Linked DNA regions of Homo sapiens: region 2 is linked to region 1. The links come from fine-mapping of genetic effects on gene expression. A gene starts in region 1. The other region holds a variant in brackets. All regions are shown on one strand. Distances are between the middles of the regions.

The links. PIP is the estimated chance that this variant, and not a neighbour inherited with it, causes the effect.
Region 2: its variant is fine-mapped to the expression of EFHC1 in blood mononuclear cells (TOPMed, PIP above 0.99).

What each region holds. Positions count from the first base shown.
Region 1 is chr6:52,418,875-52,421,786 of GRCh38, reverse strand. It overlaps EFHC1 (EF-hand domain containing 1), which reads right to left and starts at 1,445. Exons shown (of 11, transcript NM_018100.4): 1 at 1,314-1,445. The coding sequence starts at 1,376. LOC124901331 (a long non-coding RNA gene) reads left to right here and starts at 806. Exons shown (of 2, transcript XR_007059611.1): 1 at 806-1,578. RefSeq lists an enhancer at 885-1,476.
Region 2 is chr6:52,393,731-52,396,642 of GRCh38, reverse strand. All of the region lies in intron 1 of PAQR8 (progestin and adipoQ receptor family member 8), which reads right to left. Among named protein-coding and RNA genes, the nearest start is that of EFHC1, 25 kb to the left of the region's middle. The variant C/T (reference allele first, on the strand shown) is at 1,654.

The DNA of each region.
Region 1 (2,912 bases):
TAAAACTGAAAAGTCCACTGAAACTAAAAATCTATGATGTTGTGTCTTAATGCAGGGATAATTACAGAGATTCAGAATACAAATTCTCTCACCAAACTTTCGATTTCATTCTAAATTGATTCTTCCAAAGAAAATAAATTGACAAAATATTTTAACTTTGTGAAGCTGGAGAGGAAGGCAAGAGTTTAAAGTATTAAACTATATAAACATAAACTACTGTTAGCTCATCTATGATGATCAGTCTACTGAATCTCATTATTGATTTTTCAGCACATACATTTCAGTAGCCCTGTCAGAATTAAAACAAACCAAATAATTTTAAGAGCTAAACTGTGGCAAGAGTTTAAAAAAAAAAAAGAATCCAAGCTGCTGCTACTTTTTAAAAAATTTTGTCTAGAAAATGCAAATAAAAACACAAGGTTGGGGAAGGAGCAAAACAAAATCTAAACAGGAATCTTTTTACAAAAACGTTAGAATAAAAAGAACAGGGCCGGGGAAGAATAAACAGCAACTAATCAATTCTTGAGGGAACTGGAAAGGAATATCTCTTACAAAGCAGGGAAAGATGCTTTGGGAGGAAGGTGAGCAAGTTTTGGGGAAAACCCGCAACGGAGAAAGAAAGGAATGGGGAGAGGATGGGACTAAATTGTGGAAAATGTAGAAGATGGAGAAAAAAGAATGGGGTTGGATGCAAGCATAAAGAAGAAAGGAAAAAGACCTGGCGGAAAGAAGAGGAGCGGAATCGATATACATACAAAACAGGAAATGGAGCTGGGAGTGGGAGATACTACCGGGTACAGGATTCAGAAGAGGAAGAGGTGGGGCGGGAATGACGGACCTGTGGGAATGAGGTTGAAGGTGCATAGTGGCGGGGGGTTTTAAGGGCGGCGATGGACGGAGACAGGTTATGATGTGAGAGAACGAGCTAGGGAGAGGGCCCAGAGATAGGTTGGGAGTAGGGTGGGGGAAACAGTGATCTAAAGGGACAAGAGGCAGGGGCTTGGAGGAGCAGGGCCGTAAGAAAGAACGCGGCTAACGGGATGAGAATGAAGGCGCCAACACACTGCCAAGATGGAGTGGGAAAAAACTAGAGAGGGATGAGGCGGAGGGCAAAGGATCGGAGAGAGGGGATGAGGATGGCTAGGGAAGAACGGCAGAAGTTCGGCCCAGAATAAAGAACAGGGTCAGGACAGAAGACGTGTTTGGAGAGAAGACAGACTTGAGTGGAGGGGAATGGAGGTGCACTGAGCGGGGAAACCTCCTGGGCTGCTGGAAGGTGGGGACAGGTGGGAGTCTGGCAGATAACTGCTCACCGTAGAGTCCTTAAAGGACGTGCCCGGAAGAAAGGGCAAGCCATGCACGGGATTGGACACCATTGCAGCCGGTACCACCGCCGCCACCTAGGTCCTGCTTCGTCCTCTCCGGTTGCCCAGGCGACAAGCAGTGTTCGCGGGCACCTCCAGGATCCATGGTAACGCTAAACATCCGGAACTCCCACGAGCGGAAGGCGGGGCCAGGAGGCGCAGGCATCACAGGAGGTTTGCGCGTGCGCCATCCGCAGGACTCCGCGTTCTCGCGGTAAGTGGGCCGCGGCCTTGGAGCGCGGCTAGTGGGCGTGGTTGTGTCGGCCCCTCCTCTTCCGCTTCGCCCCGCCCCGCTCCCGGAGGATGAGACGTGGGAGCTGTTGGGTGGCGCGGGGAAAGGCGGGTGTAGCGAGGCGGTAGTTCTCGCTGTGAGATCCGGGGTCCGAGCAGGCCCTTAGATGAGTTGCAGAGAGGGACGTTCCTTCTCTCCTTCCACCTAGTCCTGGCGGACCTCACTGCGCCCCGCCAACGCTGTGAGCTCAGGCACTCTTTTCTCCCCCCTCTGCCCCATTTCACACAGAAGTGTAAATGGTCGGTCCAGTTGGCAGTGCTACTAAACTAGACCCATGCTTCTTGTAGGCAGGGGCCGAGGATTACCCATGATTGTGTTTCTGTTGCTCAGGGATGGTCAATGAACTAATGCAATCATCTCATCCTTAATTCTCCCACTGCCACATTGTATTTTTCCCCTTTTAACTCTTTTTTAAAATCAATCTTTCTCTTTCTTTCTTTCCTTTCTTTCTTTCCTTTCTTTTCTTTTTCCTTCCTTCCTTCCCTCCTTCCCTCCGTCCCTCCTTCCCTCCTTGCTTCCTTCCTTCCTTCCCTACTTCCCTCCTTCCGTAGAGATAGTGTCCCACTATGTTGCCCAAGCTGGTCTCGAATTCCTGGGGTCAAGCGATCCGCCCACCTCGCCTCCCAAAGTGCTGGGATTACAGGCATGAGCCACCGCGCCCAGCTCTCTTTATTCTACCATCAATCCCTTCGGTTAAACACCTTTGTTTTTGTAGGGAAAGCCTTGAATATGTGCTGCAGGGCAGGGTGCACTCTGATAGGTACTTGATTTTTGTTGACTGAAGAGCTGCAGGTTGAAGGGTGGTCACCTCAATCCCTCGTTTGTACCTGCAGCTGCAATGAAAAAGATCAGAACCACTAGGAGGAACACAGCTCCTTCAAAGAGAAAGACTAAGTCTTGGGAAAGAAGCAGATAAGTGAGGTGAAATATTGTCAGCATCATAGGTATAGCCTTTGATGCTTTTTACAAAACTTGCTTAAATTATTTTTTCTTAAAAGAAACATAATCCTATTCCTGAAACATTTTTTTTGGGGGGGGGGGGAGAAAGCTATCCATCATTGCTGAGGAGCTTAAAAATAAAAAGTAATCAAAACCCACGTGCCGAGAGATTTGGATTCATTAGGTCTGACATGGAGGCCAGGAATCTGATTTTTGTAACAGGCGTTTGTGACAAGCCAGTTTAGGAACATGATAGAGTAATAAGCCAGACACAGAAGGCATATCTCAGTGTCACAGGTAGTTTACTGCCAATACAG
Region 2 (2,912 bases), 25 kb after region 1:
ACCTTTCATCATCAATAATGGCTCTCCTAACTCACATCCCCAACCCTCACTTCATTCTCCAAATCACTTCAGGGCAACAGTTTAAAAATGGAAATCTGATTATCATTCCCTCCTCAAAATTCTTCAACAGCTCACCATTGTTTGTTTACAATACAAATTCTAAGCCCTAATTATTCAAACAGATCCTTTCTCTGTTTTCCTTCCTATTCCAGCCTCCTCTCCCAGAGCCCATACCTCTAAGGCCAATTTGTTGGCCCAGATCTTAATACTCTTAATACTGGGAGTTCTTGACACTCTATCTCCCATGCATGCAAACTCAGTACCCTCTAGCCCAGCAACTCTGGGTCATTTTCAACACTCTAACTAGAAGTCGGCTCCACCAGGAAGCTTTTCTTAACTCCCAGACTGGCTTAGGGCTCTCTCCAGCCTTCATTAGACTCTGGCCTTGCCTCTCCCAGTTTTCTTCATTCATGGAGCTGGGTTCGTTTGTTTACTCCACTTACTTTCCCATTAGCCACCAGCTCCTTTAAAGGCAGGGACTGTTAGGTGCAGAAGTCCCCATGTTGAAAATAATATCTGGCATATAGAAGACACCTTATAATTATTTACTGAATGAACAGTTCTTTAGGCCCAGGCTCATGGCACCAATTTCTTTCTCTTCTGCAAAGGTGAAGGAAAAAAGAAGTAATGGTTTGGGAGTCAGGAAGTCTGGCTATTAGTATTTGCTCTACTCAGGTGTGTGGCTATGCCTAAGACAATCAATTACTCAGTGTCATTGTCCTCATAAAAAAGGGTGGGTGGGTGAGAGGAGGTGATTTCCTGTCTATCCACTTTTTAGGAAGAAAACAGAATGAATAATAACAAAATGGTCAGTAATGGAATAGTACTTTCAAGAGGCAAAACATGTACATAAAGTCCTAGTAATATTTCAAATAAAGAGCCCACTGAAGGATATAACTTAGTAAAAATAAATCTATCCACACGTATTTTCTACCTTATAATTGATTTTAATGCAATTTTTTAAAATCAAAAAGGAATATTATTTGTTTTGTAACACTCCTGGGAATCATCATAATACTGCCTCCCTGGGTCAGGTCTGGGCTGAAAGACATGTTTGAAAATGTTGAGTTTGAAGTGCCCATGGAGGACATTCATTTGGACACATCTAGAGCAGTGGGATATTTGAACTCCCCTATCTCCTTTAAGGATTTTTAATTAGAGTCAGATTATAATGGAATTGGAATTAAAAGTTCTATTTACTGAGTATATGTACCATGAATTCACTTAATGTTTATAAGAAAGTGTTAAAAAATGTTGAATAATGCCTTGCATTATGTAGGGATCTAATCTTTTTTTTTTTTTTTTTTTTTGAGACGAAGTCTCGCTGTGTCGCCCAGGCTGGAGTGCAATGGCGCAATCTTGGCTCACTGCAACCTCCGCCTCCCGGGTTCAAGCAATTCTCCTGTCTCAGCCTCCCAAGTAGCTGGGACTAAACTGCAGGTGCATGCCACTATGCCCAGCTAATTTTTTGAATTTTTAGTAGAGACAGAGTTTTACCATATTAGTCAGGCTGGTCTCAAACTCCTGACCTCAGGTGATCTACCCACCTCAGCCTCCCAAAGTGTTGGGATTACAGGCGTCAGTCACTGTGCC[C/T]GGCCGGGATCTAATCTTAAAAATTTATCTTAGAAGCGCCTTTCAAATTTTTTTTTTAATGGAAAGAGAAAAATGGGGTAAAAATCCCAAGTTCATGGTTAAAAATCTGACATTTTAGCCAAAAATTGTGCATTTAGGTGTTCTTTTTAAAAGTAAATCACAGAACTAAGCTAAATACAGATGTTCCTTGACATATGATGGGTTATAGCCCAGTAAACCCATTGTTAAGTTGAAAACGTCTTAAGTTGAAAATGCATTTAATGCACCTAATCTACTGAACGTAACCACTCTTAGCCTACACTACCTTAAATGTGCTCAGAACACACACTTAGCCTACAGGTGGGGAAAGTCATCTGGCAACAGAGGACACCGTAGGGTACTGGTTGTTTTGAGATCACATGGCTGACTGGGAGCTGCAGGTTACTGCTGCTGCCCAGAATTGCTAGAGTATTTCACCACCTATCACTAGCCTTGGAAAAAATCAAAACCCCAAATGCAAAGTATGGTTTCTATTGAATGTGTATCACTTTCACACCATCCTAAGTTGGGGATCATCTGTATTCTTAAGGTTTGGTTTTGTTTTCGTAGTTCTGACTGATGGAAACTACCTAAAATGCATTTCCTTTTCAGTAACTTTCAATAAAACAATGAAATGACACGTTTTTGGTGATAGTTGTTATCCCCTGAAAACACAGTAAAAATACGTGAAGTACCCATAAAAGACCATTTAACTTTCAGAGAGGAACTATATCGATAAGCAGAGCAGCACCTGGGCACGTCTCCTATCACCTGAGAAACAGGTGTAACCGTGTCACTGCACTCACTGCTCCTGGCCAACTCCTCCATCTGCTGGGTTCCCTCTCATTGGCCCCTGTCTGAATTTGAGTCCTTATTATCTCTCACAGGAACCTCTGTAGGATACAGGAGGCCTTCCTGGTCCCCTACCTGTGCGTCTCTTTAACTGTCCCCAAAGCATCTCCCACTCTGACACTTTGTGTTCCAGTTATTCTGCCATCCTCTCAGGACTTTGTGCTTCTATGCATGCCTGGAATGCCCACACCACTGATGTCCACTGGCCAACTCCTACTCATGCTTCATGTCCCATCTCAAATGGTCCCTGTGAAGGCTTCCCCTCAGGTGCTCCTTCACCTAACTGCCACTGCACTTAAAGTCCTTCATTATAGGACTTTCCTTACTGTATGCCTACATGGTTTGCATTATATGTCTCTCTGACCACTAAACTGCAAGATCCTTTGAGG